2 linked regions of the Homo sapiens genome follow. The protein of the gene in region 1 purifies or fractionates together with the protein of each later gene. This does not show direct contact. Each region holds a gene or a part of one and is shown on either strand. Other genes may lie near its edges.

Region 1 (4,662 bases):
TAATTTGTGTGTTATTTCCTCTAGTATTCTCAACTACACTGTATCCATCAATGTTATTTTCTTCTAAACCAAAACTCAAGAAAGTATGTATTATAATTTTTATACCATAGATAGTCTAGGTAGTATAGCAAGGCAGAAAAAGAATGGGTTATCAGCAAGAATTAGCCATGTGCAGCTAAATTATTAGTCATGAAATTATTACAGGACTCTTCTTAACACATAAAAGCAGTAATAAGAACCAGACATTAGGACCCCTAAATCTCAATAAATTGAGTTGACATTGTGTGGTACTCTGTAGTCCAACTTTGGTGGTTGGGAGGGACGTTTCTTAGGCTAATGAAGTCAAAAGTTAGCTGGCATCAGAATCACCTGAAAGATAAATTTTGCTGCTCTTCACATGGTGCAGAATATCTGACTCAGTAGTGTGAGATGGAGCCCAAGAATTTTCATTTTTGACAAGTTTTGAGTTGATGCTCTGCATGCTGCTAGTTAGGGGGCTATATATACTTTGAACACCACTGGCCTAGTAGTTCCCAAACCTGACATAAAAAAAAAAGCAAAAAAACGAAGACCCTGGAGATTTTCTTTTTTTGCTTTTACGGAATCTTAGACCCTATAATTATCTACTGAATCGAAGTAACTTAATTGGCTGTATGTGTCAGTGTACACTGTACAATCAGGGCTCATTGGACCATTTTTCATTTCTGAATTATTTCGAGCAGTTCTGTTTGTAAGGATTGAAATTTCATGACTTATTCTTTCTTAGGGATCTTCAAAAGAATAAAGAAAACTGAGCTATATTTCTCATAAAGTTTATTTGATCTTGAAATTACCACATTGGTCTATTGGACATTTTTTAATTTTGAAATACGTTTTGGGATTTTAGTGGTCACATATTGTTCTTTCTCAAAACATTCTCCTATTTCATTATTTTAGTATTACTCATCAATTCTCAACTATGGTCGAAAGAATAAAATAATTATGATGGAATTAGGATTCCAGTAAGACTTTCCTAAGACTTTAAGTATTTTTTTCATCTTTTATGAGGTCTGCATCCTAATTTATTTGATACTGTTTGTAAGTGGACAGATGCTAAGGGCAGATGTGTATACAAAGGTGATTTGGAAAAAAAAATGCAAAAAAGAATTATTGGGTTGACCATTTGAATTGTTTGTAATCTAAAAATGAAAATATGTTACAAATTATGGAGCAAAGAAGATTGTTGTCCTCTTTTCGTCAAAATAAGCCATGAAAGGCTTAAAAATTCCTTCAAACATTGTGTTTTAATGACGCAAGTGCAAAAAAAAAAAGCAGGAATAATGACAAGCTGTAACCAATTTGAGATGTATCTGAAATCTGGAAGTGGTATTTACAAGATGGATATGTTGTAGATTCATACATGAAGTTAGTAAGCAATTATTTGCACTCAGGTCGTGCCCATTTTTGGTGTACATGACTTTAGGGAAACTGGGAATTGAAATTCGGATTTGCTGTATTTATTTCTTATGAAAATTTTTAACAAAGTTTTTTTCCTGCTGTCTTTTTGCTCTCTAAATTATTCTTCAAGTGTCATGAAAATAAAGGAAATAAAAAAGCCTCTTTGGACTTATATGATAAAAATATTGATGACTGTTTTCCCTGTTATACTGAAGATTACAAGCTTCAGAGGAGAATATAAATTTAACAGGATTGCCCATGAATTAATTGTTTAAAGCTGGATGATGGGTATATGAGTTTTATATACTTCTCTCAACTTTTTCCTGTGTTTGAAATGATCTGTAATAAAAGTGTTGGGTTTTTTTTTTAATTTTCCCATGTGAATCTAATGATTTACCAATGTTGGGAACTACAGGTGTTATTTATTTTTGAAATTTCAGTCACTTAATCTGTCAGAGGATCACCTTCCTCATCTGTTTCAACAGAAAGATGTAGAAATGCTACAGTCTGGGTTGCAGGTGGTCGGGCGATTGGGTGAAGGCCTTAACCAGTGTAACTGCTATAGCTACCATGCACTCTGCACCCACTATGCTCATGTTGCATTGGCAGGAGAGGAGAGAGCACTTTCCTCTGCTCCTGCACTTGGCTTTGACGTGTAAAGAGACACTTTGCTCTAGGGATTTAAAGACTTGAGCTATCTATAGAATGTGATTTAGAGAGGATACCAAATTATTTAAAATAATGGTCATCCTCTCAAGTTAGAAAACTATAGAATCTAATAAAGTTGAGAACATTTGCTTACATAAACATTTAAAAATTGATGGTTAGTTTCATGCATATGATACATCTAAGTTTTATTAGTAGCCAGCTGGTAATAGTTTTTACAACTTTTAAAGTTAGCTAAGTACAGCCATACACCACATACCATTTTGGTCAACAGTGGTCTGCATATATGCCTGTATGATGGTGGTCCCATAAGATTACAGTGGAGCTGAAAAATTCCTATTTAGTGGCATTGCAACTGTCCTAACTTGGTAGTACAATATATTGCTCACATGTTGGTGTTGATGCTGGTATAAACCAACCTATTACCAATCTAGTTTTATATAACCTTCCAGTCATAAAAAAAAATACAGCACAATTACGTGCAGTACATAACATAATTCTTGATAAACAATTATGTTACTGGTTTATGTATTTACTATGCTTCTTATTGTTTTAGATTATATTACTTCTGCTTAAAAAAAGTTGACTGTAAAACAGCCTCAGGCAGGTCCTTCAGGAGGTATCCCAGAAGAAGGCATTGTTGTCATAGGAGATGACAGTTTCATGCATGTTGTTGCCCTTGAAGACCTTTCAGTGGAAAAAGATGTGACAGTGAAAAACAGTGATATTACCTTGACCCTATGTAGGCCTAGGCTAATGTGTGTGTGTCTTAGATTTCAACAAAGAAGTTTAAAAACTAAAAAATTAGAAATAGAAGCTTATAGAGTAATGGTATAAAGAAAAAACATTTTTGCACAGCTGTACAGTGTCCTTTTGTTTTAAACTGTTAGTAGAAAAGGGTAAAGTTAAATTTTAAAATTTATAAAGTAAGAAAGTTACAGTAAGCTAAGGTTAATTTATTAATGAAGAGAAAAATTTTTTAATTTAGCGTAACCTAAGTGTACAGTGTTTATAATAGTCTATTGTAGTGGACAGTAGTGTCCTTGGCCTTCACCTTCACTCATCAGTCACTCGCTCACTGATTGACCCAGAGCAACTCTTTGTCCTGTAAGCTCCATTCATTGTAAGTACCCTATACAGGTGTACCATATTTTATCTTTTACACTGTATTTTTACTGTACCTTTTCTATATTTAAGTATGTTCAGATACACAAGTACTTATTGTTGTATTACAGTCGCGTGCAGTATTTGGTATAGTAACATGCCGCACAGGTCTGTAGCATTGGAATAATAGGATATAACTGTATAGCTCATAGGTGTGTAGTAGGCTATATACCTAGGTTTTTGTAAGTACGCTCTTGTGATGTACAAACAACAACGAAATCACCTAATGATGCATTTCTCAGAACATATCCCTGTCATCAGTGTATGATTGTATTGTATTTTCATTGTTAGTATCATAAAATGCATTAGTTACGTAAGTAATTTAATCTCACCAGGAAAGATTCCAACAATTAAAGCAAAGGCTTTCACCGATCTACCTGTGTGTCTTTTTACATCTTTTTCTCTTTGTTTACATATGTATAGTCATTTAAAATACATGTTTTTTTCACTGTTATAGGAAAAATATAATTGGAATCATGTATATTTTGCAGCCTTGTTAAAGTGCCTTTTGGAGTATATTCTGTATTAGTATACATAGGTCTACCTCATTTTTTCATGACTGCATTGTATTTCATAATATAAGTATACCAGTTTATTTAAACATTTCAAATGTCAGAATCTCTTACCCAGGACTTGGAAATTACTAGTATACAGTCACGTTTAATCCCATTGTTTACTTATGAAGTTTTATGAAGTGTGTGCAATTGATTGCCTAACACTTATTTAATAGGAAACCTTTCCCTAGTATAGGAACCATGAGAGTTTTGTTTTTTTCTGGTGTATTCTGATTATATATAATATGTGTAAATTGGTGCCTCTGTGTCTGACTTCATAAAACTTCTTGAAAGTTGCCTCATCCCCGTAAGCTAAAACTGTTAAACAAAATGAAAATATTTAGAGCATATAACAGCCTCTTTTGCTGGAAGGTTTTATAGAAATAAAGTTGCCAGCATATTTTTAGAAGAGTAACTGCTCCCTGACACCAGAATGGCTTATTTTGAAAAATAAGCCAAAACAAATATACCCTTAGATAGGTGTCTATAATATTCCAGCAAAGGGATTGGGATAGGAAATTCCTACCCATCCCTGTTTTTGCTTTGGATGAAAACAGTCTTAAGAGGTTTCAATTGATGGAAAAGATTAGTATACATCATTTCATTGGCCAGACGTGGTGGCGTCTGACTGAAATCCCAGAACTTTGAGAGCCCCAGGCAGGCGGATCATGAGGTCAAGAGATCAAGACCAGCCTGGCCAACATGGTGAAACCTCGTCTCTACTAAAAGTACAGAAATTAGCTGAATGTGGTGGTGCACACCTGTAGTCCAGCTACTCTGGAGGCTGAGGCAGGAGAACTGCTTGAACCTGGGAGGCGGAGGTTGCAGTGAGCCGAGATTG
Region 2 (5,122 bases), on another chromosome or scaffold:
GCTAGGTGAAGCCTAAGGCTTTTTCTTCTGTCACAAATGGGAGAGCCCTGACTGCCACCCATAGATCCAGAGGCTCACAGGGAGCCCAGCACAGCCTCCACTAGCTCTGGGACCCTGAGCAAAGGACTGACCCTCTCATTCTTAGTTTCCTTATCTCTAAAATGGGCGAGATAATTCTGTTACCTTACTGGAATGTTATAAAATTCAAATTTCACACAATAGGTATAATGTGCTGGGCACGGTTCGTGGCATGAAACCAGTACTCAATACATGCGAGTTATTCTGTGTGTAGCTCCAGGACTGGGAAAACATCTGAAAGGAGGTAACGGAACAAGGGGCATCAAAGAGAAAGGAGGATGGGGGCATCACCTCAAAGCGGGAGATGAAGTCCTTCAGATTTGGGAAGGCGTCCAAGCACTTGGGCTCAAATATACGGTGGAGGTCAAGGACATCATAGACGAGAAAATCTACAAAAGTGATCTGCAGAAGGCCAAGAATATGTGGGCTGGAACCTCCATAACACGTGAAGCAAAACAGATCTCATTCCCCATATCACTCCTCCTTTACCTTGTTTCCTGCAAACCATGGCCGCTTCCCCAGAAACTCTGAGTAGAGCTTTAGCTTTTCAGGGAGTTCCTCCAAGTACTTTGGCTTCAGTTTCTCCTGAGGCAGAAAACAGCTGTCACCACCCTCGGACAAAAGCTCCCTGCACAGACGTGGCCTCCCCGGGGCTGTGGACGGCCCAGGCTGGCCATGGGCAAGCAGCCATCTTCCCCAAGCTGGAACTGGGGCAGTGCCCAGGCTTCAATTGGATACATCAGCATTTATTAGACTCTGACTGAGTGCCAGACCCTATCTAAACTGATCAGAAGGCAGAGAGGAATGAGATGCTGTCCCTGAATCTGTCCTCACTGACCTCCCAATAGCCTCTGGGTCAGCCCCAGGAGCGCCCAAGCACCTGGCAGCCTCTGGATCCAGACCAGCAGAATCAAGGATGCAAAGAACTAAGGGAGCTCAGGGAAAGTAGAAAGTTCCTTCTAATGGGGTGGCAGAAGAAAACAATGAACATTGACTAGTTTCCAGGGAGATGAGAAGTTCAAGTTGAAAGGAAGGAGGGAGAGGAATAAAGGCCCTCTGACTGCCTCTGAGCTGTCTGTTATGAAAATGCGCAGATCCCTGTGCATGTCAATGACAGCACTCAGAAAACTGTTGAGGAGAAGATGCAATTCGAGGGTGCCATTACATTCCTGAGTCTTCTACTTGAGTCTGCATATTCTAGGAGCAGGCAGGTGATGTGAACTGGCTGACAGAAATGACCCAGGACAGAAGTCAGAGGCCAGAGCTGATGAAGGAGATTCTGAACACAAACTTTACCATACAGGAACTGAATTTCTACCCTGGGATGCCTGGATCGTGTCCTAAGGTTGGTGGGAATTGCCTCTGCTTTTGTTGACATGACATTGGAGTCGTGAGAATAACTGCTGATAGTATGGGAAAGCACTTGGAGGATGAATGGTACCAGGGACTTAAGACCAGTGTGTGCAGGAATGCAAGAGTCCTGGCCCCAAATCCAAACTCTGTCAGATGCAGCTCACTGGGGACACTCACAAATTCTGGATTGTAGCAGATCATGCCCAGCTGCATATGGTTGTCCATGGTCTGGTTCTCCAAAATGTCCACACGAATCTTCTCCTCTTCTGTCTCCCCACCTGCCACCCACAAAACACAGACTCAATCTCAGCATCACAGCCCAGCCAAGGAGGAGGCCACCTTCCCCCCACACATTGCAGCCACCCACACTCACACAGGTTGTGCTTGCGGGCAATGTAGCACAAGATGGCGTTGCTCTGGGTGATCTTGTGAGCCCCATCAATCAAGTAGGGCAGCTGGATGGATGGGAAACCGGCGAAGCTCAGTTGGGCCACCAGGCTCCCCAGCATCCCCTTCCCATAAGCAAGAGCAGAGAGGAGACCGGGCACTCACTGTGCCTGCTCATGGCAGGACTGAAATAAGAATACTGTCACATGAACGAATGCAGGTGGACACAGAACATCATGGAAGGACTGTTTAGACAGCCAGGAGTGAGAGGAATTGGGCAGAAGACTCCTGATCTTAACACCTCTAAGCTGGGGAGAGGAGATGCAGTCAGAGACACGTTGCACTTTCCCCCAAAACCGCCCCTTCCCCTGCACCTACATTGGGAAAGTCCAGGCCCAGCTTGAATTTTTCATTCAGCCACTGGCTTCTGTCATAATCAGGAGCTGTGGTGGGGAAGAAGAAGTGAAAACAAACCTCCCCAGAGCCCAGCCCTCCTTCCCGGGGACCCTCCCACGGAGCCAGTGGCAAGATCCCTGAGACAGGTGGATCTAGAATCTGACCACTCAGTCCCACATCCCAGGGTTCAGGGACAAAGAATCCCGCTGAGGGCTCTGGACCCCACACAGCTAAGGCTTCCAGGGTTTAGGCAAGCCCTGAGGGACACCCGTCCCAATTAGACAGGGGGCCCAGCATCCCACCCCAGCATTCTGCCTTGCAAGGCCAGAGGGCTCCCTCACCGGGGCTCAGGGAAGAGACAGCCTGCAGCTCCAGCAGGGGAGGCCTGCAGAGGCAGCCACAGGTGGCCACCATGGGTTGCTTGGTGCCAACTTAGCGTGAGTGGGCAGAGCCCGAACACGAGGGTGCCATTACCGTCCCCCATCGTGTACTTCTTTTCCTCATAGCTTGAGTCTGTGTATTCCAGGAGCAGGCGGATGGCGTGGGCCAGCTGGGAGAGATGGCCCGCAGGTCGCGTCAGAGATGGAGGGTCCCTGACTTTGTCTGCACCAGGGAAGCCCCCAGTTTACACTGCACGTACCCGTTGCCTCCTCTACCCGCCCACACCCCCAACACACACACAGCGGCATGCACAGGCCCTTCTGAGGCGGGCAGCCCTGAAGAGGAACGGTCCCTAGAGTCCGTCCCGCAGCTGCTTCGCACTTCCCTCCCCTGCGCCCTCGTCCCACCGTCCAGCGGACCCTCGCTCACCCCGCGGATGTCCCAGTACCCCAGTATCATGGGCATGGTGCTGGTTGGTGCGGATTCCGCAGACAGGCCTAAACCGAGCAGGGCTCAGAGTATAAGAGCTCCGGAGAGGGGACAGGCGGGGCCTTGCTGCGACCCCGCCCCTCGGCCCGCCACAACCCGAAAGGCGCCATTCTGGAGGCCCGGGAGAGGGCGCCTGGGGCTGCACTCAGTAAGACTTCCTCCCGCCTCCCAGGCCCGAGGGTTCCGGGAGCGAAGTCAGGGCGCCCAGAAGCCCAAGGCGGGGCTCGGCCTCGCCAGCTTCCCTACCCAGCCCTGAGGCTCCACGAGTCCATCCAGCCCTTGCTAGGTCCACAGCGACTTGGCTGTGCGCTTGAGACACCAGCCAGATCCTAACGGAGCAAAGCTCTTCTCCCTTCTCCTCCCTGCCCGCGGTGTCCCTCAGCCTTCTCTCCGCTGCCGAGTTCCCAAGGGCTCTGGGAGACTCCGGCTGCAGGGGTCAGACTAAAAAGTGGTGGCCCCAACCTGGGAATTTAATTCAGCCCCTGTCACTGTAAGAGCAGGACTTCCTCTGATCCGAAAGCTACTCCCAGGGCTTAGTCTCCCCTCTAGCCCCGCCTACACAGGAACAGTGTCAGTGGTATAGGAAGGACCCCCAGGAAAAGGGCCAGAGTAAAGGAAATGTGGTCTGTGTTTTCTGTTAGGGGCCCTCGGGTACTGAGTCCTTCGGTCATCTGGCTAAGTACTGTGTAAATTAGCCACTTCGTATTTTGGCACAATTTATGAATCGAAATCCAAGGATCAGATCCAGCAAGTTGGTGAGGTATCTGAGGTGCCCCCTAGAAATGTCCAGCCAGTCCACTAGGTGAACCTCACAGAGACCGGAACAGCAACAGCAACAGTGAGTGCAGTGGCCACAGAGAGCAGGCGAGGGAGGATGGAAGAACTTCCCGGACCAAACTGAGGGTCCGGCTGCTATTTCTCTAGGCCCAATAACGAGATGCAGATCAAATGGGGAGGAAGAGAGGTTTTATTTCTGCAACCGGTAACAGGGAGAAGGCCTAGAAATTACCACCAGACCAACTCAATATTACAAAGTTTTCCAGAGCATATATACCTTCTAAGGTATATGTCTACAAGTAAGTGTGCATTCATCTAAAGACATAAGTGATTAACTTCTTTAATCTGTAACTGAGGTCTGGGTCCTGAGGACCTTATTCTGGAGCCTCAGTCTATTTATTTAATCTAAATGGGTCCAGGTGCGGGGGATGATTACCCTTATCTTGTCTCCTGCTAAATCACGGAGGTTTGGGGAGTTCCTTCAGACGCCCAATAAACTTGTTTGTGGAGGCCTGGGGAGTTTCTTCAGACTCACAATAAAACTTGTTTAATTCTAAATAGGTCCTGTTAAGAATTCCTTCATTGTTTTGTCATGCTTTAAGGCCCAGGAAAGGCCTAAGCAAAACTCTTGGTGGGCTTTTGTTACATCCAGCCTCTGTATAAAGGTACTGGCTTTTTTCAGCTTTTAATATTTAACTTCACCACTCAGTCAGTACTGAAACAGTTGTTATGGAGGCCTGTGTTAGTGACGCCTGGCCTGCCACAGAACCTGTCCCTCAGAGAAGCCAGAACCCTGTCCTGCTGAGGAGGGAGGTCAGAGGATGGTGGCCAGAGAGGAGCCTGAGGGCTCCCCACAGGACCACAGGCAGGGACCCTCCCCTCTCCAGATCCACCATTCCGGACCTGGACCTGGCTCCTGACCCATGTGTGTTCTTCAGTATGAGACGGTGGCTCCAGTGGCCTTTGAAGTCACACCGTGATATGTGACCCATGGTACAACCTCCACGAGAACAATGTCCAACCTGCCAACTTTCTTCTTTCAAGGTAGAAGGAAGACTTTCAAAAGAGTTGTGCAATGGATTAGCCTGGGGTTGACTGCTTTAAAGGATATTGCAAATAATAATGGACATATGGAAATAGATGATAGACCTTTAATGAGAAATCATTTTGCAATGTAAACCAGGCTGTTGTGCTGCAAAAAAAGTAGTTTTTTTGTTTTGTTTTGTTTTGTTTTGTTTTGTTTTGTTTTTTGTAAATTAGC

Evidence for each region. Proteins that work in one complex are often made in the same cells at the same time.
Region 2: the proteins of ARL6IP6 (region 1) and GSTM1 purify together in Homo sapiens (affinity purification with mass spectrometry; 2 studies listed by BioGRID and IntAct, with this or other methods). This does not show direct contact.

The regions. Positions count from the first base shown.
Region 1 is NC_000002.12:152,724,352-152,729,013, forward strand, and holds part of ARL6IP6 (ADP-ribosylation factor-like protein 6-interacting protein 6), read left to right. Parts: intron 1-4,662.
Region 2 is NC_000001.11:109,685,812-109,690,933, reverse strand, and holds the start of GSTM1 (glutathione S-transferase Mu 1), read right to left. Parts: upstream 3,118-5,122; 5' UTR 3,061-3,117; coding exon 3,025-3,060; intron 2,818-3,024; exon of another isoform or gene 2,765-2,817; coding exon 2,689-2,764; intron 2,262-2,688; coding exon 2,197-2,261; intron 1,887-2,196; coding exon 1,805-1,886; intron 1,710-1,804; coding exon 1,609-1,709; intron 664-1,608; coding exon 568-663; intron 481-567; coding exon 370-480; intron 1-369. UniProt on the Homo sapiens protein: Conjugation of reduced glutathione to a wide number of exogenous and endogenous hydrophobic electrophiles. Involved in the formation of glutathione conjugates of both prostaglandin A2 (PGA2) and prostaglandin J2 (PGJ2).